4 linked regions of the Homo sapiens genome follow. The protein of the gene in region 1 purifies or fractionates together with the protein of each later gene. This does not show direct contact. Each region holds a gene or a part of one and is shown in the gene's direction. Other genes may lie near its edges. The genes, in order: EHD2, EPN1, EPN3 and SLC2A4.

Evidence for each region.
Region 2: the proteins of EHD2 (region 1) and EPN1 purify together in Homo sapiens (affinity purification with western blotting, with the first as the bait; one study listed by BioGRID). This does not show direct contact.
Region 3: the proteins of EHD2 (region 1) and EPN3 purify together in Homo sapiens (affinity purification with western blotting, with the first as the bait; one study listed by BioGRID). This does not show direct contact.
Region 4: the proteins of EHD2 (region 1) and SLC2A4 purify together in Homo sapiens (affinity purification with western blotting, with the first as the bait; one study listed by BioGRID). This does not show direct contact.

The regions. Positions count from the first base shown.
Region 1 is NC_000019.10:47,721,581-47,729,086, forward strand, and holds part of EHD2 (EH domain-containing protein 2), read left to right. Parts: intron 1-4,231; coding exon 4,232-4,644; intron 4,645-7,343; exon of another isoform or gene 7,344-7,506. UniProt on the Homo sapiens protein: ATP- and membrane-binding protein that controls membrane reorganization/tubulation upon ATP hydrolysis. Plays a role in membrane trafficking between the plasma membrane and endosomes. Important for the internalization of GLUT4.
Region 2 is NC_000019.10:55,682,931-55,690,436, forward strand, and holds part of EPN1 (epsin-1), read left to right. Parts: intron 1-2,465; coding exon 2,466-2,715; intron 2,716-5,939; coding exon 5,940-6,064; intron 6,065-6,366; coding exon 6,367-6,441; intron 6,442-6,936; coding exon 6,937-7,020; intron 7,021-7,506. UniProt on the Homo sapiens protein: Binds to membranes enriched in phosphatidylinositol 4,5-bisphosphate (PtdIns(4,5)P2). Modifies membrane curvature and facilitates the formation of clathrin-coated invaginations. Regulates receptor-mediated endocytosis.
Region 3 is NC_000017.11:50,533,488-50,539,812, forward strand, and holds part of EPN3 (epsin-3), read left to right. Parts: intron 1-2,933; 5' UTR 2,934-3,069; coding exon 3,070-3,631; intron 3,632-3,806; exon of another isoform or gene 3,807-4,014; intron 4,015-4,439; exon of another isoform or gene 4,440-4,591; coding exon 4,592-4,710; intron 4,711-5,103; exon of another isoform or gene 5,104-5,267; intron 5,268-5,396; coding exon 5,397-5,477; intron 5,478-5,699; coding exon 5,700-5,828; intron 5,829-6,325.
Region 4 is NC_000017.11:7,278,643-7,286,691, forward strand, and holds the start of SLC2A4 (solute carrier family 2, facilitated glucose transporter member 4), read left to right. Parts: upstream 1-3,075; 5' UTR 3,076-3,292; coding exon 3,293-3,325; intron 3,326-4,602; coding exon 4,603-4,719; intron 4,720-4,830; coding exon 4,831-5,003; intron 5,004-5,095; coding exon 5,096-5,220; intron 5,221-5,331; coding exon 5,332-5,447; intron 5,448-5,574; coding exon 5,575-5,737; intron 5,738-5,842; coding exon 5,843-6,030; intron 6,031-6,192; coding exon 6,193-6,297; intron 6,298-6,445; coding exon 6,446-6,547; intron 6,548-7,062; coding exon 7,063-7,266; intron 7,267-7,783; coding exon 7,784-7,987; 3' UTR 7,988-8,049. UniProt on the Homo sapiens protein: Insulin-regulated facilitative glucose transporter, which plays a key role in removal of glucose from circulation.

The DNA.
Region 1 (7,506 bases):
TGGGATTACAGGCATGAGCCACCGCCCAGCCTATTTTCTGCTGCTTTTAAACTGTGGGACCTTAGGCAAGCCACTTAACCTCTCTTTGCCTCAGTTTTCTTACCTGCAAAATGGGAATAATGGGCTGGGCGCAGTGGTTCACGCCTGTAATCCCAGCAGTTTGAGAGGCCAAGGTGGGCAGATTACCTGAGGTCAGGAGTTCGAGACCAGCCTGGGCAACATGGTGAAACCCTGTCTATACTAAAAATACAAAAATTAGCTGGGTGTGGTGGTGCTTGCCTGTAATCCCACCTACTCGGGAGGCTGAGGCAGAAGAATTGCTTGAACCCAGGAGGTGGAGGTTGCAGTGAGCCGAGCTCATGACACTGCACTCCAGCCTGGGCGATAGAGTGAGACTTGGTCTCAAAAATAAACAAACAGAAAAACAAAACACACACACACACACACACACACACACACACACACACACACACACACTGGGAATAATAATACTAGCGGCCTCATAGTTGTCCTAAAGGTTAAATTAGTTAAAACATACAAAGCACTTAGAAGGTGCACACTTGTGTGTGCACACAGTAGGCGCTATGGAAGTGCCAACAATGCCTGTTTTCGCTGGGTGAGTGCCGTTGTGGGCCCAAGGTTCCTTTTTGCCACGTCTCCCATCCCACACTGACTCAACCTCTCTCCCTTCTTCCCTCCCCGCCCCATGAGACACACTTTCCGAATCTGGGCCAGTATGTGTGTTTGTGGAGACACCGGGAGGGAGGGGGGGCTCCAGTTGCTGTCCCTCCAGTGACTTGGCCCTTCCTCCCCCAAAACAACGGCCCCCAACCCCATCCCGGTCCCTGCGTTGCCCGCAAGGAGGCTGCTTCCTCTCAGGCAGGATGGGTGCAAGCACCAGCTCCCCGGAGGAGCATAGGGGCCCATGGGACTCCTCTTCTGTCGCCTCTTACCTGTGTGTCTTGAGTAAGTCCCCTAACTTCTCTCTCTTTTTTTTTTTTTGAGACGGAGTTTCGCTCTTGTTGCCCAGGCTGGAGTGCAGTGGCAGGACCTTGGCTCACTGCAACCTCCGCCTCCTGGGTTCAAGTGATTCTCCTGCCTCAGCCTCCCGAATAGCTGGGATTACAGGTGCCCACCACCACACCCAGCTAATTTTTTTGTATTTTTAGTGGAGACGGGGTTTCACTATGTTGGTCAGGCTGGTCTCGAACTCCTGACCTCAGGTGATCCACCCGCCTCAGCCTCCCAAAGTGCTGGGATTGCAGGCGTGAGCCACCACGCCTAGCTAGTCCCCTAACTTCTCTGTGCCTCAGTTTCCTCATCTGGAAAATGGGGTCAGAACAGTGCCCACCTCCTGGGGTTGTTGTGAAGAGTCACTGAGTGAGCTCTAGCTGGAGGGCATGAAGTCAGTAAATCAGGGCTAGCTCCTTGTTCTGCCAGTTAACTCTTCGTCCTCCGGGTTCCCACTCTGCCTTCCCTCCTCCTGGAAGTCCTCCTTGACCCCCAGGCTGGGGGTTGGGTCAGGCACTGGCCCTGGGCTCCCACAGCTCCCTGGATCCCCCTGCCCACCCTGGGCTGACCACTCAGGGGCCAGGTCTGTGTCCCCAGTGGGCTGAGAGATGTAAGGACAAAGCTGAAACTGCCTCAGCCTCCACACACACAGCAGGGACCACAGAGGGTGCTTCCCAGTGGGTGACATCACCATGACTTGCTGAGTGCTTACCGTACATCCAGCACTGTTTTTAAAAAAACAGTTTCATTGAGGATTAACGTACACGCCATAAAAACTCAACCATTATGGCCGGGCTCAGTGGCTCATGCCTGTAATCTCAGCACTTTGGGAGGCTGAGGTGGGCGGATAATGAGGTCAAGAGATGGAGACCATCCTGGCCAACATGGTGAAAACCCATCTCTACTAAAAATACAGAAATTAGCTGGGTGTGGTGGCACCTGTAATCCCAGCTACTCGGGAGGCTGAGGCAGGAGAATTGCTTGAACTCGAGAGGCAGAGGTTGCAGTGACCTGAGATCGCGCCACTGCACTCCAACCTGGGCGACAGCGAGACTCCGTCTGAAAAAAAAAAAAAAAAAAAAGCTCAACCATTTTTTTTTTTAAAGAGACAAGGTCTTGCTCTGTCTGCAGGCTGGAGTGCAATGACGCAATCATGGCTCACTGCAGCCTCCAACTGCTGGGCTCAAGTGATCCTCTTGCTTCCTCCTCCTGAGTAGCTGAGACTACAGATGCATGCCAACATGTGTGGATAATTTTTTATTTTATTTTTTTCTGTAGAGACAGGGTCTTGTCATCTTGCCCAGGCTGGTCTCAAACTCCCAGGCTCAAGCGATCCTCCTGCCTCTACCTCCCAAAGTGCTGGGATTACAGGTGTGAGCCACTCTGTCTGGCCACTTCCATCATTTTTAAATGTACAGTTCAATGCCAGGCATTATTTTAAGCTCTTTATATATATTAGCTCATTTATATTCTTTTAATCTTCACAACAGTCTTTTTTTTTTTTTGAGACAGAGTCTCACTCTGTCGCCCAGACTGGAGTGCAGTGATGCTATCTCGGCTCACTGCAACCTCTGCCTCCCAGGCTCAAGCGATTCTCGTGCCTCAGCCTTCTGAATATGTGGGACCATAGGCATGAGCCACCAACACCGGGCTAATTTTTTTGTATTTTTAGGGCTAGGCTGGTCTTGAACTCCTGGCCTCAATTGATCTGCCCACTTCAGCCTCCCAAAGTGCTGGGATTACAGGTTTGAGCCATCACACCTGGCTTCACAACAGTCCTATGATTTGCATTTTACAGAAAAGAAAACACAAGTTCAGAGAGGTTAAGCTACTTGCCTAAGGTCACACAGTGGATGGGGGCAGAGGAGGGACTCAACTCCAGGTCTTCCAGACAGCTAAGTCAGGGGGTCTCAATCGCTTCTCTCTGCTCTCCTCAGCATTGCTTGTTGGTGAATAAATGAGTGAAGAAGCAAAGGTGAGAATGAGTGGATGAAGGAGTGAATGAGGAAATGAATGGTGAAAGGAATGAATGAATGAGCATGGGAACCCATGGCTGGGATGGGTGCTTCATAAGAGCAAGAATCTTGTCTGTGTGTTCTCTGCGGTATCCCAGGCTCCCAGGACAGGGCTTGGCACACATGAGACTCTCAGTAAGTATTGCTAAATAAATGCAAAATATTTAACTTCTCAGCCTGGCCAACATGGTGAAACCCCGTCTCTACTAAAAATACAGAAATTAGCCAGGGTGGTGGTGCATGCCTGTAATCCCAGCTACTCGGGAGGCTGAGGCAGGAGAATTGCTTGAACCTGGGAGGTGGAGGTGGAGGTTGCAGTGAGCCACATTCATGCCACTGCACTCCAGCCTGGGCGACAGAGTGAGACTCTGTCTCAAAAAAAAAAAAAAAAAAAAAAAAAAAAAAAAAAAAAATTATCATCTGCTATGGCAAGAGCACAGCTATCCAGCATGAACTCTAGTTGCTGGATCGTGGGGAGATACAACAGGTCCTGGGGAGGAGCTGGGGTGATAGAGGCATGTGGCAGGCTTGGGGGTTCCATAGAAGCACAGGGGGATCTCTTAGCAAACATGTCAGTATTTTTAACAACCTATATGTACATACCGACGCACACCTGTAATAACTGCTTAATGAATGAGCAAATGAAAAAATGGAGGCCGTGAGGCTGGGCGCGGTGGCCCACGCCTGTAATCCCAACATTTTGGAGGCTGAGGCAGGAGGATCAGTTGAGCTCAGGAGTTTGAGACTAGCCCGGCAGCCCGGGTAACATAGTGAGATCCCATCTCTACTCAAAAAAAAAAAAAAAAAAAAAAATTAGCCAGGTGTGGTGATGCGCGCCTGCAGTCCCAGCTACTAGGGAGGCTGAGGTGGGAGGATCACCTGAGCTCCGGGAAGCAGAGGTTGCAGGGAGGCGTGATCCCGCCATTGTGCTCGAGCAAAGGAAAAGGGGGATGATTGCCCCCTGTAGCCAGATGGCTTGAGGGGCTGGGGCCAGAGCGAGGGGGGAAATTCTGGGCACTGGAGAGCCAGAGCAGTAGTGCCCACTGAGGGCCTTGGCTATTTTGCCCAGACAGGATTTGGACAGCCAACAACGTGAACATCTTTACAGTCCAATATGCAAGAGAATGGGATACTACTGAGAATGGCTGGAGGGTGGGGGTCTGATTTCTGCCCCTTGCGCCCCTGTCTCTCCACTCCCACTCCAGGCTACGACTTCCCGGCCGTGCTGCGCTGGTTCGCGGAGCGCGTGGACCTCATCATCCTGCTCTTTGATGCGCACAAGCTGGAGATCTCGGACGAGTTCTCAGAGGCCATCGGCGCGTTGCGGGGCCATGAGGACAAGATCCGCGTGGTGCTCAACAAGGCCGACATGGTGGAGACGCAGCAGCTGATGCGCGTCTACGGCGCGCTCATGTGGGCGCTGGGCAAGGTGGTGGGCACGCCCGAGGTGCTGCGCGTCTACATCGGCTCCTTCTGGTCCCAGCCCCTCCTCGTGCCCGACAACCGGCGCCTCTTCGAGCTGGAGGAGCAGGACCTCTTCCGCGACATCCAGGGCCTGCCCCGGCACGCAGCCTTGCGCAAGCTCAACGACCTGGTGAAGAGGGCCCGGCTGGTGCGAGTGAGTAGTCCTGAGGGCTGGGCGCGCATTCTTGGAGGAGGTTTCCTCGGTCCTCTCCTACCAGTGCTGTGAGTCCCTGACTTATCAGGGCCCAGGTTAGTTAGTTCTCTTGAAGTTGGGTCATTCTGGCACAGAGTGAAGCCGGGAGGAAGAACTGTATGGAGAGACTCATTCCTCTGCCTTTGGATTTCTGTGTCAACTCCGTGTCACCCTGGCTTCTCTGTCCTGGTATTTCTATTTCTTCTTCCTCTTCCTCCTCCTCCTCCTTCTCTTCTTCTTCTTCCTCTTTTTCTTCTTTCTTCTCTCTTTCCTCCTCCTCCTCTTCTTCTCCCTCCTCCTCCTCCTTCTTCTCTTTCTTCCTCCCCTTCCTCCTTCCTTCCTTCCTTCCTCTGTTCCTCTCTCCCTTCCTCCCTCCTCCCTTCCTCCTTCCTTACATCCTCTTTCGTTCCCTCTTCTTCCTTCTTTTTTAAGAGATGGAGTCTCGCTCTCTTGCCCTGGCTGGAATGCAATGATGCAATCACAGCTCACCACAGCCTTGAACTCCTGGGCTCAAGTGATCCTTCCTCCTTAGCCTGCCCCAAGTAGCTGAGACCACAGGCACGTGTCACCACGCCCAGCTAATTTTTTATTTTTTGTAGAGTCGAGGTCTTACTGTGTTGCCCAGGCTGGTCTTGAACTCCTGCCCTCAAGTGATCCTCCCCTTTTGGCCTCCCAAAGTGCTGGGATTGCAGGCATGAGTATGTTGAATTTTTGAACTTCCTATAAAATATAGACAGACAAATACTCATTATTCTACCCTCTTTATTTTTTGATAATTTATAAGATTGTGGTTCAAAGGTTTCCAAGTTCATTGGTTTATTCCACAAATATTTCTTTTTCTTCTTCTTTTCTTTTTTTGAGACGGAGTTTTGCTCTTATTGCCCAGGCTGGAGTGCAATGGCGTGATCTCGGCTCACCACAACCTCCGCCTCCTGAATTCAAGCGATTCTCCTGCCTCAGCCTCCCGAGTAGCTGGGATTACAGGCATTCACCACCATGCCCGGCTAATTGTGTATTTTTAGTAGAGTATTTTTAGTTGGTCAGGCTGGTCTTGAACTCTCAACCTCAGGTGATCCGCTCTCCTTGGCCTCCCAAAGTGCTGGGATTATAGGCGTGAGCCACCGCGCCAGGCCCACAAGTATTTCTGGAATGCTTTCTGTACACATGGTGCTGGGGCTGGGGATGGAGGGAACAGACAAGGTTCCAGCCCTCCTGGGGCTCATCTTTTTTTAAATTTAATTAATTAATTTATTTATAAGCTAGTCAAATTTAGCAGTGGGGGTGGGGAGTTGCATGCCAACTTTACTGACACTAATAAGTTCTGATAACCAAGGCCAGGTGCGGTGGCTCACGCCTGTAATCCCAACACTTTTGGAGGATTGCTTGAGCCCAGGCATTGAAGACCAGCTTGGGCAACATAGTGAGACACCATTTCTATTAAAAAAAAAAAAAAAAGTTCTGATAACCCACTACCATTGGACCAGCCCCGGGGCTTATCTTTTGATGGAGGGAGACAGAATAAGTAAACAGACATAAAATAACAATGAAGGCTGGGTGCGGTGGCTCACGCCTGTAATCCCAACACTTTGGGAGGCCGAGGGGGGAGCAGATCACTTGAGGTCAGGAGTTCGAGACCAGCCTGGTCAAGATGGTGAAACTGCGTCTCTACTAAAAATACAAAAATTAGCCAGGTGTGGTGGCGGGCACCTGTAATCCCAGCTACTTGGGAGGCTGAGGCATGAGAATCACTTGAACCCGGGAGGCAGAGGTTGCAGTGAGCTGAGATTGTACCACTGCACTCCAGCCTAGGCGACAGAACGAGACTCTGTCTCAAAATAAAAAAAAAAAAAAAGATGAATTTATTACATCTTAGGCGCTTCACAGCACCCGTCTCCCATGACTCTTGTTTGATTGTGGCCACAGATTGTCCCCTTCTCTCACTCCTTTCCTCTGTCCTCATCTCCCATTCCCTTCCCAGCGTCCCCTGCACTTCACGCTGGTGGCCTCAGTCCTGTGCACTTGCTGCTCCCTCTTCCTGGAAACCTCTTCTGCCTTCTTCCCCCTCCCACCTGGCCATCCACAAGGCTCACTCCCTCCTCACCCCTTTCAAGACTCTGCTCAAATGCTCCCTTCTCAGGAAGGCTGTCCATGCCCTCCTTTGAATGAATATAACTTCCCCCATATGCGTCCTTCTTTACCCTAACCCTGTTGTCCTTTCCTTTCCTTTCTTCTCCTCTCCTCTCCTTTCTCTCTTTCTCTGTTTCTCTTTCTCTCTTTCTTTCTCTTTCTCTTTCTTTTTCTTTCTTTCTTTTTTTTTTTTTTTGAGACAGGGTCTCCCTCTGTTGCCCAGGCTGGAGTGCAGTGGTGCGATATCAGCTCACTGCAACCTCCACCTCCCGGGTTCAAGCGATTCTCCTGCCTCAGCCTCCTGAGTAGCTGGGGTTACAGGCGTGTGCCACCACACCCAGCTAATTTTTTGTATTTTTAGTGGAGACGGGGTTTCACCATATTGGTCAGGCTGGTCTCGAACTCCCGACCTCAGGTGATCCGCCCGCCTTGGCCTCCCAAAGTGCTGGGATTACAGGCGTAAGCCACCACACCCAGCCAATCAGGGCTCTTTGAATTCCTTCACTGATTTATCCCCAGTGCCCGGAACAGAATTGGTGCTCTGTAAATATTTATTGAATGAATGACATTGAACAAACAGTTGCATTGAACAAAATCTCCTCTATGCCTGGCCTGGTGTTGGGTGGTGCAGGAGACACAACAGTGACCACGATGGTTCCAGTCCTGTCCTGCTGGGGCTCCCAGTCCTAAATAATG
Region 2 (7,506 bases), 8.0 Mb from region 1:
ATTTTTAGTAGAGATGGGGTTTCACCATATTGGCCAGGCTGGTCTCGAACTTCTGACCTCGTGATCCGCCCGCCTTGGCCTCCCAAAGTGCTGGGATTACAGGTGTGAGCCACCGCGCCCAGCCTGTTTTTTGTTTTTTCTTGAAATGGAGTTTCGCTCTTGTTGCCCAAGCTGGAGTGCAGTGGTGCTATCTTGGCTCACTGCAACCTCTGCCTCCCAAGATCAAGCGATTCTCCTGCCTCAGCCTCCTGAGTAGCTGGGATTACAGGCGCATGCCACAATGCCTGGCTAATTTTTTGTATTTTTAGTAGAGATGGTGTTTCACCATGTTGGCCAGGCTGGTCTCAAACTCCTGACCTTGTGATCTGCCCGCCTTGGCCTCTCAAAATGGTAAGATTATAGGTGGGAGCCACCATGCCCGGCCTTATTTATTTATTTTTAAATGGAGTCTCACTCTGTCTCCCAGGCTGGAGTACAGTGGCGTGCTCTTGGCTCACTATCACCTCTGCCTCCCTGATCCACGGGATCCTCCCACCTCAGCCTCCTGAGTAGCTGGGATTACAGGTGTGCACCGCCACACCTGGCCAGTTGTTTTGTGTTTTTAGTAGAAACAGGTTTCATCATGTTGGCCAGGCTGGTCTCGAACCCCTGACCTCGGGTGGTCCACCTGCCTCAGCCTCCCATAGTGCCGGGATTATAGGCGTGAGCCACCACACCTGGCCTCATTTCTCTTTTATTTCAGTGTATGTGGTAGTCCCGCTGTGTGAGCGTGCCATAGTTGATGTATGCATTTCACTGTGCGTGGGTATTCGCACTATTTCCTGCTTCACAATCTTTTTAGCTGCGATACCAAAGTCCAGAGAGCTCTGGAAACGAAAGTGTTTCATGATCCGTTCGGCACAAAGTCTGACCCAGACTGAAGTGAGGTCGTTCACATGGTGTCTGTTGGTCCCACAGTAGTGTGGCTGTTGGCACGACTCTGCCCAGCGCGTTCTCTTATGTGTTGTATGTGCGTTATTTTCCTGGTCTGAACTCAGGAAAATTCTGAATTCCAAAACACAAGGGCCCCAGGAGTTGTGGACCTGGGACTGCCTCTTGGCTTGGGGTGTGATCAGGCATAGCAATGGCTTACCTGCTTTCCTTTCTTTCGTGTAAATACCTTGAGGGCCGGTTAAAGACTAATCTCTGATTACACTGTAAATACTGTTAACACACCTTTGAAAGGCCTTGCCAGAGCTAGGTCCAGCTGCCTCAGAGGGTGAGGAGATATGAATGGCCCTGGCATCTTTCCTGGCAGATTTCTCCTTGGTTCAGACGGAGCTTAGCTGTGATAGCTGACTCTTCCCCTAGGAGCCCTGGGTGGGTTTCTGTGGCTCTGTGAAGGCCCTGGAATCCCCTGCAGAATCAAAGTTGTGCCTTTTTTTGAGGTCAGTGACCAAGACACCCCCTGCAGAGCCTTAAGGGGGCCATGACTCCTCAAGCCCAGGACTTGAGCCTGAGCTAGGGAGAGCCTCAGAGACCTTGGTCCCCCCGCCCCCACTATTAATTTCAACTTGTTGAAAGGGAGTTTGTTTTCGTATTATAAAATACAAACATACCAAAGGGTGCAGATTGAACGATAATGTTCCCTCCGCCCTGTCCTTTTGCTCCTGGTGGTGTGGAACCTGGGTGCCCCTCCCAAGAGAGCCCGGGCCTACACAGGCCCTTGCGTGGATCTCTTCCCTTCTTGCAGAGGTGATAAACTACTGCTCCAGGCTGTTAGTACCAGCGTGAGGTTTTACAGTCAGAAATACACATTTCAAACTAGTACTAAGACCCCCTTCATTGTGATTTAACTAATGTGGTTTTCTTGGCCATGTTACTTTAGATTTTAGTTGTAAAGAAATAGACAGGGCTCCAGGATGCCAGGCGATGCCCATGGCGGCTGTGGTGCCTGTAGCTGCCATTTCCTCTTTTATTTGGATTGAGATGGAGCTCCTACACTGTGCAGCCCCCTTCATATCGCACAGTTCAGTGGCCTTCGGCCCATTCACAGTGCTGGGCGACCACCTCTGTCCAGCTCCAGAACGTCTTCATTGCCCCAGAAGGAAAACCCATAGCCTTCAGGTGGTCCCTCTCCATCCCTCCCTCCACCCCTGGCAACCCACAATCCACTCCGTCTCTCTGGATTTGCCCATTCTGGATGATTCACGTCGATGGAACCGTAGGCTGTGTGGCGTTCTGTGCTGGCGTCTGTCGCTGAGCGCAGTACCTCCGCGGCTGGTCCCCGTCACAGCGTGGGTCTGTGTTCATTCCTTTGCATGGCCGTGTCGTATTCTGTGGGGACAGATGTGTGTCCACCCACTGGCGACAGGTGGGTTGTGGGCCTTGCGCCCAGTCGGCCGCCCCAGAGCCCGCGTCGCAGGCAGTCTCTGGCCCGCCTTGTGCCCGGCGTGCTGACCGGGCATCCCCGTGCCCGCTCGCAGGCCATGACGCTGATGGAGTACCTCATCAAGACCGGCTCGGAGCGCGTGTCGCAGCAGTGCAAGGAGAACATGTACGCCGTGCAGACGCTGAAGGACTTCCAGTACGTGGACCGCGACGGCAAGGACCAGGGCGTGAACGTGCGTGAGAAAGCTAAGCAGCTGGTGGCCCTGCTGCGCGACGAGGACCGGCTGCGGGAAGAGCGGGCGCACGCGCTCAAGACCAAGGAAAAGCTGGCACAGACCGCCACGGGTGAGTCCCTCCCTGCGGCCCCTGACGGCCTAGAGTCTGTCCTCCGCCTACTGCGGCTCCCGGCACCCGGCCGCCCACTGCTTTCTCTCCCAGCCAGGAGGGACCGCGGCATCCCCCTTTGCTTCTCCTCACCTGGGCCCCTTGCTCTGGTCTCACTTGGGCCCTTTTTTTCCCTTAGCACCTCCCATGCAGCAGCTCTGGGACCCTTCCTGCCTCTTGCCTCGTGCCCCAGGGCAGGCCTAGAATTGGGAACTTTTATTCCGCTCCCCCATAGGCTCAGGGCCTGAGGGTGATCAGTGCTGGGGACAGGGCTCTGAGGGGACACGCACAGTGACCCCCGAGGGTGCTGTCCTTCTCTCTGCGCTGAGATGAGGGGAACATCGGAGAGGCAGAGGGGGGCCTGGAAGAGGCACAGAAGGAAGGCCAGAGCCAGGGCCTGCAGGTTGCACCAGGCATCTGGGCCTGTGTTAGGAGCCTTGACAGTGCCTTCTGGAGGTGGAGGACTCAGTCTGGTGGGTGGTGACCAGCACCGAAAACAAAACTTGAAATAGTGCATCCCACATCGTCAAGCCAAGATCTGTCCCACGAAACATTTCCAGTTATGTGATGGGTGTGTGGGTCTCGGACTGTTCCAGGAAGTGTGGTCTGTGTTGGTCGGGGGCTCACAGCCGTGAAGAGGCTAGTCCGGCTGCTCAGGACTGGGAGGGAGGCTGGAGAATGTCTGCCAGGCTCTTCTGCTCTCCAGGAAGAGTGGAGGTGCCTCAGTTAGTGGGGATACGTGGGATGGGGAGGGGCTGCTAGAGCACTGCCCTGGAGGTGGAGGTGGGTCAGCCAGGCCGGTGCAGACAGGAGGAAGGGCCTGTGGCCCTCGTGGGGTCCGGCTCGAGGGACTGGACTTGTTTGGGGAAGTCTAGGCCTTCTGTTTGGACGGGTCTCATTTGGGATCACCTTTCAGCACCCACGGGGAGACATGGGTGTGACGGGGTGTGTGCGACCCTGCCTGGGACTCCAGAGTAGGGACCCACGAGCCAGTAGATGGGCGTGAACGCAGAGAGAGAGTGAAGTGGAGGGAAGGAAGCCGGTGTGGCGTGGGAGTGCTCAGAGCCAGGGACAACAGGAGGGAGTGTAGGCGGCAGAGAGGGGCTGGTCAGCTCGAGGCAGGCAGGCAGGCAGGTGGGTGGCGGGGTTGGGGTGGACGGAGGAGGGACATTGGCAGTAGCTCGGAGGAGAGTGGGAGCCTCAGGTAAGAGGCCTGAGGGTGGGACATCCTGGCTCGGGGGTCGTCAGACTTTGTGCAAGGCCAGAGCTAATGTCCTCTGCGTTGCTGGCCACGCCTTCCCATCCTAGCTGCCTGGCCCCGTCCGCTGGCGGTTGCTGGGAAGCAGCTGCACCCCTCCGACACTCACCAAGGTCTCCGAAATTTGAATTTTATGTAGTTTTCACGTGTCTTTTTTAAGACTTTTAAGTTGTTATTTAATTTTTTAAGGGTACTCTGAATTTTCGCCCATCTTGGTGCATTCTTTTCATTTCTTCCAACCATTGAAAAATGTAAAGGCCTTTCTTAGACCTTCTCAGGCCAGCTGTGGCTGCCACTGTGGTGTGCTGGCCCCTGTCTTGGAGTGAGTTGTGTGGAGGGCTGTGGCTGGGGAGGAGGATGGGGGCAGCTAGGGAGTGAGCCCTGAGACCCTCAGTGGGCAGGGAAGGGCCTGTGGTCCCCGGGCAGCACCGAGGCTGGGTGCTCTGGTGATGGGAAGGCCCGGGTGTTGCTGGCTGGGTGCCAGTATTACCTGTGATGTGGGAGGTGGGGCCCTCAGGGCTGCTGGGCATTGGATTTAGCCACCACCAGGCTGGGGGGTTAGGGGCATGTGCAAGGTAGAGGTTGGGCAATGGGGTGTAGATTCCCAGCACTCACCTCTGAGAGTCCCTAGAGCTTAGGAGGAAGTCACAGGGGCAGGGAAGAGCAGGAGGGGCCACAGGGGTGTGGTCCTCCCTGTGCGCTGGCCTCACCTGTGCCCCACGCTGCCCTTCCATCTGCCCATCCCCTCAGAAGGCCGCTTACCCACCCAAGTCCGTCAATCCCTGCTGGTTCTCTCGTCCTTTCCTCACTCATAACCCCAGATGGTCACCCTTCGGCCCCGCTCTGCCACCCACATGCTCCCTGGAGCATCCCATGCACCCAGCCCTGCTGGGCACACCACACGGGGGCCAGCCTGGGGGCCCCTGGACCCGGTGCAGGTGGGGCCGCCAGACAGCTGCCTGCTGCGGCTCCGGGCAAGGGGAGCCAGGGCCTGCTCGTCAGGGAGAGGCCTGGGCCTGGGGAGTGGGTTGGGTGGGGACACAAGTACAGGACACAGGTGCAAGGCGGCGTCTTGGAGCTGGAGCAGACAGAACTTGCTGACCAGTGCACAGTGGTTGGGAGGGCGGGGCAGGAGAGGCAGGGTCCGCCCTGGGGCTTTGGAGGCTGGGGCAATGGCCCTGTGCTCGGCGGGCCTAGGGCCTGGTTGGAGCCTGTCCTCTGCACTGTGGAGGGGGGCAAGGGTCCACAGGCCTTGGGGGTGGAGAGAACAGTGTCAGGACAGAGTTTGAGGGTAGGCGGGGTTGCTGAGAGGATGCTGCAGTGGAGGCCGGGGATATCTCAGCAGCCTCCTGGAGGGTCCGGCCCTGCCTTCCTGTGTCCTCTCTCTCCCTTCCCCTCCTGCTCTTGGAACCAAGGGCTCCTCGCTAGCCCACTCCCTAACCCCGACTAGGCCTTGGATCCCGCTGTCTCAATGGATGCTGTTCTCCCCTCTGAATTCCAGTTGTTCCCTGCCAGAGCTACCATTCTCAACAAGCCCTGGAAACAGGCCTGGGAAACCTGGGAGGAAGGACCTCCCATCCCCCAGGGGCCCAGGGACAGACCCCAGGCACGCGGAGAGTCCTGGTGGTGGCAGGGCTCAGAGGTTGCTGGGGTTCCCCACCTGCTTATCAGACTGACTTTTGCTCTGGTCCTTCCCTGATGCCTGGCCCCTCCCGTGGGTGGGGCTGCCTGCATCCCCACCCTTCCTCCTCTGAGCACCTGGCGTCTGGTCTCCGCCTCTCAGTCCTAGTCTTGGCCTGCAGAGGTTGTAGGGTGGGGGACTTGGGGGGTGGGGTTGGACACAGAAGCCCCCGTCTGTCTAGGCTATGGGGTTTCCTGTCTCTCGTTCCCTGGTCTGGGTCTCACGCGTTTCTCACCCGCCCTCCAGCCTCATCAGCAGCTGTGGGCTCAGGCCCCCCTCCCGAGGCGGAGCAGGCGTGGCCGCAGAGCAGCGGGGAGGAGGAGCTGCAGCTCCAGCTGGCCCTGGCCATGAGCAAGGAGGAGGCCGACCAGGTACTGGGCGTGCAGCTGGGGCTGTCTGTCCGCCACCCGCCTCCACGCCTCACTTCAGGCTCCCTCCCAGCCAGGCGTGGGCCTGGCCCTCACTGTCGCTGCTCCACATGCTGTCACTCGTCTCCTCCCCAGTCCTGCCTCATCCTCACCCCGCCGTCCCTCTGCGTGTCACTCTCTGCCTGTCCCTCACTGGTTCAGGGACCCCCAGCCCTCTCTTTCTTCGGCTCTATCTGACCCTGGCTCTGCCTCTGACTCTGCCTCTGGCCCCTCCCGTCATGCCCCTCACACTCTCTCTCCCCCAGCCCCCGTCCTGCGGCCCCGAGGACGACGCCCAGCTCCAGCTGGCCCTTAGTTTGAGCCGAGAAGAGCATGATAAGGTCAGAGCAGCCTCCCTGTCCCTGCCCCTGCCAGGGGCTCCCCTCAGACCAGCCCCGTCGCCCCTTCCTAAGTCACCCCCCACCATCCTGCTGGGCCCGAAGCCCACAGGCTCACGCGTGTTGAAACCTCAGTACCTTCAGCCGTAGGATGTAGGACCACAAGTCAGACAGAGCCTGGGTGGTGGCCAGCACAGCTGTGCCAAGGTTGCTCGGGTGACCAGGGTCCCTTCCTCCCCCCAACGCAGGAGATACCACCGAGGCGGGTGCCCGTCCTCCCCGGGTGCGCCAGCACAGCACCCCACTCCCCTTATCCCCTGTCCCGCCTGACCTTTGACCCAGGTGCCCCATCCCCATTTCATACATTGTCCGCATCCCATCGAATCCTTCAGCCGCTTTCGTTGGGGTGGGAGGGGTTGCTGGGGCTTCCAGGCTGAGGTGGCATCTGCCCGTGGCTCACGTTCTCATGTCTCCCTGGTCGTGCCCGTGCCCCAACAGGAGGAGCGGATCCGTCGCGGGGATGACCTGCGGCTGCAGATGGCAATCGAGGAGAGCAAGAGGGAGACTGGGGGCAAGGAGGAGGTGAGCGGGGCTTGTTCTGCCCTCCCTGGCCCCTGCAGGTGTCCGTCCGTCCCATCGCTCATTCCTGCGTGGCCAGGTCCCTGGAGCAGAGACTGAAACACAAGGTCCTGGAGCTGGGCACCGGGTTTCCAGGCTTGGTCGGCCTCTCTGTGCCTCTCCCTCCCTGCTGGGCTGAGGCCGGTGACTGACCAGGCTGCCCTGCGGCCACCTCCTGTGGTCAGCGCTGGCCATCCCCCTTCGGGCTGAGCACCGTGAGGGCCACCACCGGCCGCCACAGCTGAATGGGGAGGCCCAGAATAGGCCAACAGCCTGGCATGGCCACAGGGAGGAGGGTGCAGGGCTCGCCCCATCTGTCACACTTTGTCGGGCACCTCCTTGGTGCCAGGCCGTGTGCTGCACACCCAGGGCCTGTTGGTGAGCGAGGAGGCATGGTCCCGCCCTCGCGAACACTGTTTCTGTGGCGTCCCCATGCTCTGCAGCTGAGTA
Region 3 (6,325 bases), on another chromosome or scaffold:
ACGGGAAGAGGGTGTGGGCTGGGCTGGTGGGTGCACAGACTTTACGCAAACTCATGCACGTGTGACTGGACAGATCTGGGTTCTCTCCATCTCTCCGAAACCCTTGCTGGGGATGAGCGATCTGCATTTTTCGGTCCTGACTTTTGGGAAACTCTCCAGATCCCCCCATCCTGCAGGCCCTGAGAAGAGCAGCCCCTCCCTACTGCGCAGTTCTCCTTGGGACCCTGTATGCAGGAGAGAGCTGATACTCCGTGCCCCGTGGCCCATCCCACCGCCTGCTGGCCCTGCTCCCATCCCCTCAGCTTCCTCCCTCCTCTGCCCTCTCGTCATCTCTGAATTCTCAGGCCCTGCCCTCTCTGTGCCCTTCCCTCCACCTGACAGGGTCTGGCTCAAGGTCACTGCAGTAATTCCATACCCAGCTGCCCAGGGCTGCTGCTGCTACCGCCACCGCCTTATCGGCCGCTGGGTTTCTGTTACACTCCCTTTTATTTCTGGGCATATCGTGTTCGATAAAACCCTTTGCTTGTAACACTGCTGGCAGCGCTCCCAGCTGCTCCCTCCCGCGTTCCCGCGTTCCTTCCTTTCCTCCTCCCTTCTCTGCGCTTGGGCAGGCTTCTTCCTTTCCTCCTCCCTTCTCTGCGCTTGGGCAGGCTTCTTCCTTTCCTCCTCCCTTCTCTGTGCTTGGGCAGCCTCACCTTGTCCCCTCAAACTCCAGAGAAGGAAAATCAAGGTGCCTCCCCATGTTTCTGGCCCCGCCCTTCCCCCCAGCCCCTGCAGGGGTGTGCAGAGAATGCCCACCTTCTGTGAGAAAGGTCCAGGCAGGGCCGCTGGGCCCACACCGAGAGTCCCCTCCCAGAGGCTGGTGCCCCCACACAGGCCAGGCCGGAGGGCCAGGGCAGCCAGGTCCAGGTAGGGCTCTGGTGCAGTCACAGTGCCCGACTGGTTCTGCTAGTTCCAGCGGCCAGCCGGTAGGGGCGTGTGCTGGGCGGGCTTTGGTGCACATTATTTCCCATCTTGACTCTGCCACCCCCAGCCACGGGTTGGGGAGGTGAAGGCAGGTCTGAGTCACTAGCAAGGGGGAGGGCAGGAGTTAAACAAGTTGTGGCCGTGGCATTCCCACAGAAGGCCCACGACCCGCTGGAAGGAAAGAGATAGCAGACAAAAGGTAGGCTGCGCTGTGGGCCAGGCACTCTCCACCTCGCCCACTCCCACGGTATCTTATTCTCTGGGCCCCCAACAAAACCTGCCAAGGCATGTTTTCAAAGCGTGGGGCTGCTTTGAACTGAGCCCAGCACTGGCGGGGCTGGGGTGGAAGGAGCGTGGAATCGGGTGCGAGAGGACAGTCTCCTTCAGATTCCTGCTTCTGGCAGCCTGGGGACCAGTTGGGGCACGGGCTGGGATGGAGGGTGGAGCCGAAAGGTGTTTGGTGGGTGGGGGACAGTTCACGGGTGAAGTGGAGGCTCTGCAGGCCCAGACAGTGTGTGTGTGCATGCACACACCAGTGCTAGTGTGGGAGGAATGGTGGTGGTCAGGGAATTCCTCTTTTGGTTTCTGAAAGGGCCTTTGGGAGGACCTTGGGCCTGGAGTTGTATTCAGCAGATAGCCTGGACCTGTGGCTACTGGGGGGAATTGGGCTGGCCCAGCTCTTCTCCCTGCTGGGGTACCAGAGGTCCACTATGTGTCCAGCGTTTTGGGGCTTTGGAGAACCCAGACTGTTCCTACTCTCAGGGAGCTTCCATTCTAGCTGAGAAGGTGGGACTGAGACAGTAAAGCAATCCGATGAAATAATGACCAAACTGGGTAACACTGACAATAAGAATTGGATTAGTCTTCTGGAGTCCTGGATGGTAGTCCAGGCTCTGCCACTTACGTGCCATATGATGCAGGCAGGTCCCATCCCCTCTCTGGCCTCAACACTTCCATGTGTACGTGGGGGTGGCATGCAGGAGTGTTGGCAGTGGCCAGAACTCTGAGGGGCAGTCTTCCTCAAACGATACTTGCTCTCTTGCCTTCTGGCCCAGGTCATAGCATTTCTTCTGAGCCGCCCTCCCCTGACTTGCTGGTTCACTCCTCCTTACTCTTCCCTTGTGATCTTGGATCTCAGCTCTGTCACCACCTCCTCTAGGAAGTCTCCCCTGATTTTCCTGGCTTGGGTCTTCCTGTGCGGCTCTGCACTCCCACACTGGACTGTGATTTTCTGTACCCTCTCAACTGAACGTGGGTGGACCAAGGCGTGTGTTCTGTGCCTGGCATGGTGCCTGGCTCAGAAAAGGCCTCCGGGAAATAGGTGTTGAATGCATCAAACTACAAAAATTAACAATATGAGAAAAGTGAGCTGAGGAGCTAGGAAGGATAGGTCTTAAGCTAGATCTCAGCAGAAACAGAGGCAGTGGCCGAGCAGAAGCAAGGCAAGCGGGCATTCCTGGAATCCTGTTAGCGTTCCCCCATGAGGCCATGCACTCTTAGGTGGGGCTTCCTGGGGTCATCTTGGTTCCCCATGCAGCAGCTCTGTGATCTCGGACAAGTCACTTAATATTACAGGGTCTCGCTCTGTTGCCCAGTGGCCTGACCATGGCTCACTGCAGCCTCCAACTACTGGCCTCAAGTGATCCTCTTGCCTTGGCCTCCTGAAGTCCTGGAATTACAGGCGTGAGCCACTGCACCGGGCCCATTTAATACTCTGAGCCCCACCTTTCCCATCTGTGGATGGAGGTAATGATAATAGCATCTTTGGGGTGTGGCTGTGAAGATAGATAGATGAGCATGCAAAGCTCCAAGTGCCTGCTGAATTGTAAGTGAAATAAGAACGTGTGCCGCTGAAGGCTGTCCCTGGAGGCAGGGACACTCTGGCCAGGCCTCATTTAGTTGGTCAGTGGCTGAGTGACCCATGAGGTAGGCCTCTGCCCCTGAGTTCCTGGCCCTCTCTTCCTCAGCCCCATGTGGAACCCAAGGATGCAGCTGCTCTGCTAACACGGCAGCCCATCCTTCAAGACTGTGACCTCGCCACAGTGGCCCTCAGCCCTCCACCTCCGGCGGGGGCGAGGGCCACCCACCTCCAAGTCTCCAGCCATGACGACCTCCGCACTCCGGCGCCAGGTGAAGAACATCGTGCACAACTACTCCGAGGCAGAAATCAAGGTGCGCGAGGCCACCAGCAATGACCCCTGGGGCCCCCCTAGTTCGCTCATGTCCGAGATCGCTGACCTGACCTTCAACACAGTGGCCTTCACCGAAGTCATGGGCATGCTGTGGCGGCGGCTCAATGACAGCGGCAAGAACTGGCGGCACGTGTACAAGGCTCTAACATTGCTGGACTACCTGCTCAAGACGGGCTCCGAGCGGGTGGCCCACCAGTGCCGCGAGAACCTCTACACCATCCAGACACTCAAGGACTTCCAGTACATCGACCGCGACGGCAAGGACCAGGGCGTCAACGTGCGCGAGAAGGTCAAGCAGGTGATGGCCCTGCTCAAGGATGAGGAGCGGCTGCGGCAGGAGCGAACCCACGCCCTCAAGACCAAGGAGCGCATGGCACTGGAGGGCATCGGCATTGGCAGTGGGCAGCTGGGCTTCAGCCGCCGCTACGGCGAGGACTACAGCCGCTCCCGGGGCTCCCCGTCCTCCTACAACTGTGAGTAAGCCCCGGTGTGTGGCTGGGATGGGGAGGTGGCCCGACTTCCATTCCTGGCTCTGCAATCCAAGCCATGGTTCATAATACCTACCTCCGAGGGGTGTTATGAAGATTCAGACATAAGGAATGTAACACGCAAGGCGCAACACCCGGCACATAGGAGGTGCTCAACAAGTTAGCTCAGATAATAACGTTGTTATAGATTCATTATCATTCGTTAGCTGCCTGATAGGATGGCGCGATAGTGGAAGCATGGGTTTGGAGTCAGATAGCATTCTATATTCTGCTTCCTCCAAGCTGTGTGACCTGGGCAACCAGTTCTCTGAACCTCAGTTTCCTCATCTGTACAGTGGGGATAAGCTCACCTACCTCCATTGTTTGATCTGAGAATGAAATGAGACCAGGTTCAGGAACGTCCTCTACCCTGCACCCAGACACATGGCATTCCCCTTCATCCCCCTACCTGAGGGCAGCGGCTAGACAGTCCCTGACTCTCCTGCCCCCAGTCATGGGGGCTTCCAGGATCTGAGGAATACTCAGAATGGCCCGCCTTCCATAAAGCCCTTGACAGTTTGCTGAGGGCTTTGAGGTTGTGACCTCGTTGGACTAGAACCTCCTATCCTTGCACCTCCCTTGCCCCCAAGCCAGGACAGGGTCCATCTGGAAGTCCAAGAGCTGGAGTCAGGGCACCTGGGTTCAAGTCCTGCTTCAGGAACCTGGTCAGGGGCCCTAAGTGCCGCCTGTGCATCTGCTAAGGAGGGACTGGAGCCGCCCCTCCATCCGGGATGGGTTGGGATGGGGAACTTACAGAGTGCCTGGCACACTGCTTGGCCCACGGGGGCCTCAACGGCCGTTGTTCCCCTCCTCTCAGTTCTCTTGAGCCTCAGCTTCCTGGCAGGCAGAGGGGTGTGGGAGCCGATGGGTAATCGTGTGGTCACAGAGACATGATGGTCATTGCAGCCTCCTCTTCGTCACCCCGCTATACCTCCGACCTGGAGCAGGCCCGGCCTCAGACGTCAGGGGAAGAGGAACTGCAGCTGCAGCTGGCCCTCGCCATGAGCCGTGAGGAGGCAGAGAAGGTGAGGCCATGCAGCCCCACTGCGGTGGGGAGGGGATGGGCTAGGGGGAGAGAGTGCCTGGGAGCCCCTTGGCCTTGACTCAGGCTCTGTCACCCAAAGCCCCAGTCCTGTGCCCAAGGACAGCACAAGACCCATTATCTCTGTCGGTTTGTCGCAGGCAGGGACTGCCTCCCTGCCTCCAGTCCTCTCCACTGGGCCTGGAAAGGGTGGCGAGTGTACAATTAGGGGCACATGCTATGTCTTGGGGTGCCTGCTACCACCTCATGGTGGAGTGGGTGAGTGTGCTCAGACATATTCCTAGGAGACACTGGGATATGCTTCCCACCCCCGCCCACCAGCTATCCTTTTGGGGAGACAAGGACAGGCCCCCGATATCATCATCTTTGCCATTACCTCTGTGGATCCAGGAAGACCAGGCAGGAAGCAGCTGGGCCTCACACAGGAGGGCCTGAGGAACTCTCAGAGGATTCAGAAGCGAAAGATCAGTCTTCCTGACCTTTAAACTGCATTTCAGATGCAGGCAGGGAGAAGGCCACGCCCACCCTGCTGACTGAGCGGCAAATGGCCCATGCACACTGAGGGTGGGCATTAGTGTCTCCATCCCCATGACCCAGGCAGGCCTATACTGCCCTTCTGGTCCCAAGGTGGGGGTACAGGGCCAAGTTTACCCCTCTCTTCCTCCGCAGCCTGTCCCCCCAGCCTCCCACAGGGACGAGGACCTGCAGCTGCAGCTGGCTCTGCGCCTGAGCCGGCAGGAGCACGAGAAGGTAGTGGGCCGAGCCCGCTGGGCTGCCGGTGCTGCTGCTGCTGCTGGTGGAGGTGCTTCAGGGCACTAACAGCCTCCTCCCGCTGTACCCGGTGGCCCTGCTGCTCCTAACCTCTCAGCTGCCTCCCACCCTGCACTCTCTCGACTCCAGCCTCTGGTGCACAGGTCCCCGGATTCCCGCCTGAGCTGCTCATGCTCCTAACTCTTTCTGTGCCTTCTGCAGGAGGTGAGGTCCTGGCAGGGTGATGGCTCCCCCATGGCCAATGGTGCAGGGGCCGTGGTCCACCATCAGCGGGACAGAGAGCCTGAGAGAGAAGAGAGAAAGGAGGAGGAGAAGCTAAAAACCAGCCAGGTAGGGAGTGGGCTGCGGTGCTTGGGATGGACAGGGCCTAAGAGATGGACTGAGTATTTGTAAAGAGAGAGCAGAGCAGTGCCTGGCATATAGTAAGCACTGATGTGTTTATTCGATGAAATAGGGGTGGGGGTGTAGCAGCCCTAGTCCCACATTGCATGGGCTGGTGACTGAGTTAACAGCAAAGTGGGATGCAAAAGGTTCCTGATTGGAGACCCCCGGATTCGGGTTCTGGATTTGCTGCCACTTACTCTATGACTTGGGGCATGTCACTGTCATGGCCTCAGTTTCCCCTTCTGCACAGTGTGCTTATTGGATAGTTCCAGCTCTGACATGCTAGGATTATGTGATACTGTCAATCAAGACTAGGGTTGGCCTAAGCACATGGTGCTGAAAACACCTCGGGCTCATGGACATATTTTCTCCGCATGGGGAGTGGGCAGCTGCTGAGTGCAAGGCTGCCCTCCAAAGCTGTCCATGCCACGCCCGGGTGCTGT
Region 4 (8,049 bases), on another chromosome or scaffold:
TGAAATATATAACAAGATGCTATTTATGGAAATTTAAAATGTTTGGGCCGGGCGTGGTGACTCACACCTGTAATCCCAGCACTTTGGGAGGCTGAGGTGGGCAGATCACTTGAGGTCGGGTGTTGAAGACCAGCCTGGCCAACATGGTGAAACCGTCTCTACTTAAAATACAAAAATTAGCCAGGCACAGTGGCGCAAGCCTGTAATCCCAGCCACTCCGGAGGCTGAGACAGGAGAATCACTTGAACCTGGGAAGCGGAGGCTGCAATGAGTGGAGATCGCCCCACTGCACTCCAGCCTGGGTGACAGAGCGAGACACTGTCTCATAAAAAGAAAAAAAAAAAAAACTTTGCACACAAAATGATTTATATTTTGTAAGAGCACAAAGAAAAAAATGAACATTTAATGCACTGGAATAATTGAATGCATTGGAATAAGCATTTGGGTGTGGTGAATCGAACGTGTAGTCTTAGCTACTTGGGAGGCTGAGGTGAGAGGACCGCTTGAGCCCAGGAAGTCTAGGCTGCAGTGATCGGTGACTGTGCCTCTCACTCGAGCCTGAGCAACAGAGACCTCAACTCAAAACCAGTAAAATCGCCGGGCATGGTGGCTCACGCCAGTAATCCCAGCACTTTGGGAGGCCGAGGCAGGTGGATCACCTGAGGTCGGGAATTGGAGACAAACCTGACCAACATGGTGAAATCCCCCATCTCTACTAAAAATACAAAATTAGCTGGGCCCGGTGGCGCATGCCTATAATCTCAGCTACTCGGGAGGCTGAGGCGGGAGAATGGCTTGAACCCGGAAGATGGAGGTTGCAGTGAGCCAAGGTTGTGCCATTGCACTCCAGCCTGGGTAACAAGAGCGAAACTCTGTCTCAAAACAAACAAAAACAAAAATAAAAATGAGACATAGATCAGTGAAGACAGTGTGCTAATAACTGTCATTCGTTCAATCTTCTGTGCTGGAACTCAGGGATCAAGGTCCCCAGAAGCCGGAAACAAAGTGAACCTGTGGAGCAGGAACTGGGTGAGGAAGCTTTCTTTGAAGGATGAAGAGGAGTCCTTTGGAATTCCGGATTTTTTTTTTTCTTCTTGAGACGGAGTCACTCTGTCGCCAGGCTGGAGTGCAAGGGCACGATCTTGGCTCACTACAACCTCCACCTCCTGGGTTCAAGCCATTTTCCTGCCTCAGCCTCCCGAGTAGCTGGGATTACAGGTGTGCATAACCACGCCCGGCTAATTTTTGTATCTTTAGCAGACATGGGGTTTCTCTATGTTGGCCAGGCTGGTTTCAAACTCCTGACCTCAGTCGATCCACCTGCCTTGGCCTCCTAAAGTGCTGGGATTACAGGCATGAGCCACCAGGCCGGGCCGGCATTCCAGATTTTTCAGGGGATTAGTGCAGCAAAGGAATCAAGAAGGGATGTAAAGGCACAGTGTGTTCTGGGTACAATAAGGACTTAGGCATTGCCCAGAACAGGAGGCGAAGGAGATAGAAGGAGAGGCAGGAGAGATAGGTAAGGCCAGAGATCGGATAAGAGAGGCAGGAGGTTTTGTTCACTCTGAAAAGGGATTTGAACTTGGCAATTGGGGCAACAGAGACAGTGACTTCTTGCTTGAGAGATGAGATTGGACCTTCGAAAATTGTTCTCTGCCCTCGTCATAAAGGAAATAAGAGGAGCACGAAGACCAGTGAGGGTGATGGTGATCTGGACTGAAGTGGCAGCCGCCACGGAGAATATCGGATGAATGTGAGAGAGTTTTGGAGGTCAAAGCACCAATGTTGGAAACTAACTGGATAAACGAGGAGAGCGGCGCAGGACAGGAGGAATCGAGCCTGACTTCTACCATAGGGGTGACTGGGCGGGTAATTCATTGAAATAAGGAAGTTAGGAGGAGGAGCAGGTTTGGACATGCTGATCACTAGAGCTGCCACATCCGGGCGGTAACGAACACCTGGATCTGCAGCTCCAGAGAAGGGCCTGGGTCAGATGTCACTGAAGCCCTATGGTGGCGGAAAGGCGAGAAATAGTGGGTTGAGATTCCAAGTGCAATCCACTGCGGCTCCTCGCTCGCCCTCCAGGTGGCAGCACAACCCTGCGCTTCCGAAGCCCGTTTTCTGAGCCAGACACTCTCCACGCTCTGGGTATTTCGGCTTCTCTCTCCCCACACGCCGACCCTAGGTCGCGCACTTTCTGCCTGGCAGAATTTGGCCGAGGATCCAAACCCGGAGCAGCCTCCAGAGAGCGTGTCGTTCACGCGGCCAGCATATGCTCAGAGACCTCAGAGGCTCAGAGACCTCAGGGCTGGTGGTGTGGTCGGTTGTGACCACTTGTCCCTCGGACCGGCTCCAGGAACCAACCTGGGGAATGTGTGTAGGGGAAGGGCGGGATAGACAGTGCCCGGAGCAGGGAGGCGCTGAAAGACAGGACCAAGCAGCCCGGCCACCAGACCCGTTGTGGGAACGGAATTTCCTGGCCCCCAGGGCCACACTCGCGTGGGAAGCATGTCGCGGACTCTTTAAGGCGTCATCTCCCTGTCTCTCCGCCCCCGCCTGGGACAGGCCGGGACGCCCGGGACCTGACATTTGGAGGCTCCCAACGTGGGAGCTAAAAATAGCAGCCCCGGGTTACTTTGGGGCATTGCTCCTCTCCCAACCCGCGCGCCGGCTCGCGAGCCGTCTCAGGCCGCTGGAGTTTCCCCGGGGCAAGTACACCTGGCCCGTCCTCTCCTCTCAGACCCCACTGTCCAGACCCGCAGAGTTTAAGATGCTTCTGCAGCCCGGGATCCTAGCTGGTGGGCGGAGTCCTAACACGTGGGTGGGCGGGGCCTTTTGTTCCAGGGACTCTTTTCTCAAAACTTCCCAGTCGGAGGCTGGCGGGAACCCGAGAGGCGTGTCTCGCCAGCCACGCGGAGGGGCGTGGCCTCATTGGCCCGCCCCACCAACTCCAGCCAAACTCTAAACCCCAGGCGGAGGGGGCGTGGCCTTCTGGGGTGTGCGGGCTCCTGGCCAATGGGTGCTGTGAAGGGCGTGGCCCGCGGGGGCAGGAGCGAGGTGGCGGGGGCTTCTCGCGTCTTTTCCCCCAGCCCCGCTCCACCAGATCCGCGGGAGCCCCACTGCTCTCCGGGTCCTTGGCTTGTGGCTGTGGGTCCCATCGGGCCCGCCCTCGCACGTCACTCCGGGACCCCCGCGGCCTCCGCAGGTTCTGCGCTCCAGGCCGGAGTCAGAGACTCCAGGATCGGTTCTTTCATCTTCGCCGCCCCTGCGCGTCCAGCTCTTCTAAGACGAGATGCCGTCGGGCTTCCAACAGATAGGCTCCGAAGTAGGATTCATCATGAGGGGGCGGGGCGGGGGGGCACGGGTCCCGCTTTTCTTGGGCTGGGGTCGCGGTTGGGGTCAGCTGGGGGTGGTTCCTGCGCAGGCGCAGGGGGTGAAGGTAGGGGGCTGGCTATTTATACCCGGCCTGGACAACCCGTGACTGTGAGATTCCAATCCTACCAAAAGGCAGAGTGGGTCTGGAGGGCCTTTCGGGGCACAGGCAGCAAGTGGATTCTGCGAGCCAGGGTTCACCCCCTTGCCTAGTAGGCGGCGCGGCGCTCCGGAATCGGGGACACCCTGCCCTCGATCCGACTCGGGAAAGCAGATCCAGGCGGGTCTTGCCCTCCGGGAGCTGTCCGTCCGTCTTCGCTCACGGGCAGTGTTTCGAGGACCGGAGGCTCTCCGTGGGCCCCCACCCCCACTCCTGGCCGCCCTCCAGGACGCTGAACTTTCCCTTGGCCCCATGGTTGGTGGAGGGGCAGAGGGGACTGTCAGCCCCCCCTCCTCCAGCTCAGGTTTCCGCTTGGAGACAGTCTGTGCCGCCAGCGAGCGGCCACCACTGCCACCGCCCCTCACACTACCTTCCTGCCCTCCTCCCCTGGGCATGGCTCTCCCAGGCAGAACCCCTGGACGGCCCTCCCTGCACGGAGGTTAGAGGGGGAGGGCAGGCCACGACGTAGATAGAGAAGGCCACCCCTAGATGACCGGGATGTCCTTTCTGGAACAGCACTTCTTGGTCCTGTTGGGGGCCTCCTGGAGCTGGCTGACAGAACCCCCAGAGGGGAGGGAAGAGGACAGTGGCTGATGATAATAATGCACGTGTTAATTTATGAAACCAGCACTGTCAAGGATATTGTTAACATGTGATGTTGATTTTCACAACACTCTCACAGATAGGTAGGCAAGGCAGGCAACATCACCCCCATCTCACAGAGGACACTCAGGTTCGGGGCAGGGAAGTGACTTGGCCAAGGTCACACAAATCTGAGCTCTTAAGGCCAAGCCTGTCTCAAGGTCACAGAAGAATTTTGAGACAAGTTCTCAAACATTTCTCTGCCTTATGGACCCAAACATCCAGTTTCTCCTTTATGCCCAGGTTGCAGTTCAGCTCCTGTTTACATTGAGATCTTTGTGCAATTCCTAATATGGCCCAGTTTCCCTCACCCAACATGTTGGGTGGAGCCCAGTATCTTCAGGCTCCAGCTGGGCCCGGGCCCCTAGCGGAAGGAAAAAAATCATGGTTCCATGTGACATGCTGTGTCTTTGTGTCTGCCTGTTCAGGATGGGGAACCCCCTCAGCAGCGAGTGACTGGGACCCTGGTCCTTGCTGTGTTCTCTGCGGTGCTTGGCTCCCTGCAGTTTGGGTACAACATTGGGGTCATCAATGCCCCTCAGAAGGTGAGGGCCTGCAGCTGGCAGGGTGGGGGTACCCAAACGAGGAGGACAGGTGTCTCGGGGGTGGTGGAAAGGGGACGGTCTGCAGGAAATCTGTCCTCTGCTGTCCCCCAGGTGATTGAACAGAGCTACAATGAGACGTGGCTGGGGAGGCAGGGGCCTGAGGGACCCAGCTCCATCCCTCCAGGCACCCTCACCACCCTCTGGGCCCTCTCCGTGGCCATCTTTTCCGTGGGCGGCATGATTTCCTCCTTCCTCATTGGTATCATCTCTCAGTGGCTTGGAAGGTTCGCAGCTGGAGGGCAGGGGTGGGGGAAACAGGAAGGGAGCCACTGCTGGGTGCCCTCACCCTCACAGCCTCACTCTGTCTGCCTGCCAGGAAAAGGGCCATGCTGGTCAACAATGTCCTGGCGGTGCTGGGGGGCAGCCTCATGGGCCTGGCCAATGCTGCTGCCTCCTATGAAATGCTCATCCTTGGACGATTCCTCATTGGCGCCTACTCAGGTACTCACGGGCACCACAGCCCTGCCTAGCGCCCTGTTCTCTTTCACCATGCCTGGGCTTTCAGATGGGAATGGACACCTGCCCTCAGCCCTCTCTTCTTCCCTCGCCCAGGGCTGACATCAGGGCTGGTGCCCATGTACGTGGGGGAGATTGCTCCCACTCACCTGCGGGGCGCCCTGGGGACGCTCAACCAACTGGCCATTGTTATCGGCATTCTGATCGCCCAGGTGACCGGAGCAAGCCTCATGGGTGCCTGGGCAGTGGTTAGAGTGGGGCTCTGGAGAATATGGTGGGCTTCCAAGGTAAGGCAGAAGGGCTGAGTGACCTGCCTTCTTTCCCAACCTTCTCCCACAGGTGCTGGGCTTGGAGTCCCTCCTGGGCACTGCCAGCCTGTGGCCACTGCTCCTGGGCCTCACAGTGCTACCTGCCCTCCTGCAGCTGGTCCTGCTGCCCTTCTGTCCCGAGAGCCCCCGCTACCTCTACATCATCCAGAATCTCGAGGGGCCTGCCAGAAAGAGTAAGCTCTCCCGCTGCAGCCTGGCCCAGGCCCATGCCTCCGCCTCATCTTGCTAGCACCTGGCTTCCTCTCAGGTCCCCTCAGGCCTGACCTTCCCTTCTCCAGGTCTGAAGCGCCTGACAGGCTGGGCCGATGTTTCTGGAGTGCTGGCTGAGCTGAAGGATGAGAAGCGGAAGCTGGAGCGTGAGCGGCCACTGTCCCTGCTCCAGCTCCTGGGCAGCCGTACCCACCGGCAGCCCCTGATCATTGCGGTCGTGCTGCAGCTGAGCCAGCAGCTCTCTGGCATCAATGCTGTATGTGTGGAGCAGCCTCCAGGCAGGGCACAGCCCCGGGAGGGTAGACGAGAGTGGGGAGCAAACCCCCTCCACCAACACCCAGGGTAGGGCCAGCCTGTTGTGGCTGGAGTAGAGGAAGGGGCATTCCTGCCATCACTTCTTCTTCTCCCCCACCTCTAGGTTTTCTATTATTCGACCAGCATCTTCGAGACAGCAGGGGTAGGCCAGCCTGCCTATGCCACCATAGGAGCTGGTGTGGTCAACACAGTCTTCACCTTGGTCTCGGTAACTGCTCACCTCTGGAATGGCCCGAGCCACTGGCTTCACCTCCCTGGGTGTCCCGGAGGTCCTGCTCTTGGTTGCCCTCACCCACGCGGCCCCTCCTACTTCCCGTGCCCAAAAGGCTGGGGTCAAGCTCCGACTCTCCCCGCAGGTGTTGTTGGTGGAGCGGGCGGGGCGCCGGACGCTCCATCTCCTGGGCCTGGCGGGCATGTGTGGCTGTGCCATCCTGATGACTGTGGCTCTGCTCCTGCTGGTAAGGCCTGGAGGCTAGGAGGGGCTAGCAGCCCACCCCATGGGAATGGTCCTGTGAGTCTCTGTGACCAGCCAGGGTCCCTTCTTAACACACATGCTTTCAATCCTGGCGCCAGCTCCGGACCAGGACTGGGGCTGACTGGCTCCAGAATCTGCTGGGATTGTGGTCTGCTCCTGAGGGATTTGGGCTGCACTGGGAGGCAGCTGTGGCACAACTCTGGCAGCCAGGAGGGAGAGCCCCTGTCAAGCCTCAGGAACAATCATTCCTAAGGACCCAGCTTTAGAGTCCAGGGAGAGCTGACCGTCATAAGAACTGAGAGGCCATAACATTTCCTCTGCCTTGAACCCACTTGGGATAGCCAGCAGAATGCCAGTCAAGGGCCTGCTCTAACCCGGGACAGCAGGCCCCCTACAAGCTGCTGCGGAGGGGGTTAGGTTTCACTTCTCTGAGTTGAGGGCAAGGGAAGATCAGAAAGGCCTCAACTGGATTCTCCACCCTCCCTGTCTGGCCCCTAGGAGCGAGTTCCAGCCATGAGCTACGTCTCCATTGTGGCCATCTTTGGCTTCGTGGCATTTTTTGAGATTGGCCCTGGCCCCATTCCTTGGTTCATCGTGGCCGAGCTCTTCAGCCAGGGACCCCGCCCGGCAGCCATGGCTGTGGCTGGTTTCTCCAACTGGACGAGCAACTTCATCATTGGCATGGGTTTCCAGTATGTTGCGGTAGGTCCCCCCGCCCCAGCCTCCCACACCGTAGGCCAGAGGTGGGCATCACACAGCTAGCCCACCTGCTTCCCCGTCAGGGACTCCTCCAGCCACAGACCATGGGTCTTTGGGTCAGTTTGGTGGACCACCTGCTCCACAGAATCAAAGCAAGGAAGGGAGCTGACCTAGATTGGATAGTAACTGAGGTGTCTGAAACGCACCAGTGGCATAACTTACCTTACTCCAAGAATAAAATGATACACTTTGCATTAATACTACAAACAGCTGGGACTCTCCTCTGAGTGCAGTAACTGAGGATGGTGAAGAGGGCGAAAACTAAGAGTGTTTGGGGTTCAGAGAATCCTCTTTTCAGTGTAAATTCTCATTCCTGCTCATTTCCCTTGTCCCTGGAGGAGGCAGCTGCTGTCTGCCGTCCCCCCAGCTCCCTATGAAGGCCTTTAGCTCCTGGTTGCCTGAAACTACCCCTTCCCTCCCCACCTCACTCCGTCAACACCTCTTTCTCCACCTGTCCCAGGAGGCTATGGGGCCCTACGTCTTCCTTCTATTTGCGGTCCTCCTGCTGGGCTTCTTCATCTTCACCTTCTTAAGAGTACCTGAAACTCGAGGCCGGACGTTTGACCAGATCTCAGCTGCCTTCCACCGGACACCCTCTCTTTTAGAGCAGGAGGTGAAACCCAGCACAGAACTTGAGTATTTAGGGCCAGATGAGAACGACTGAGGGGCCAGGCAGGGGTGGGAGAGCCAGCTCTCTCTACCCGGCCCAGAGACCCCTTCCTTTCC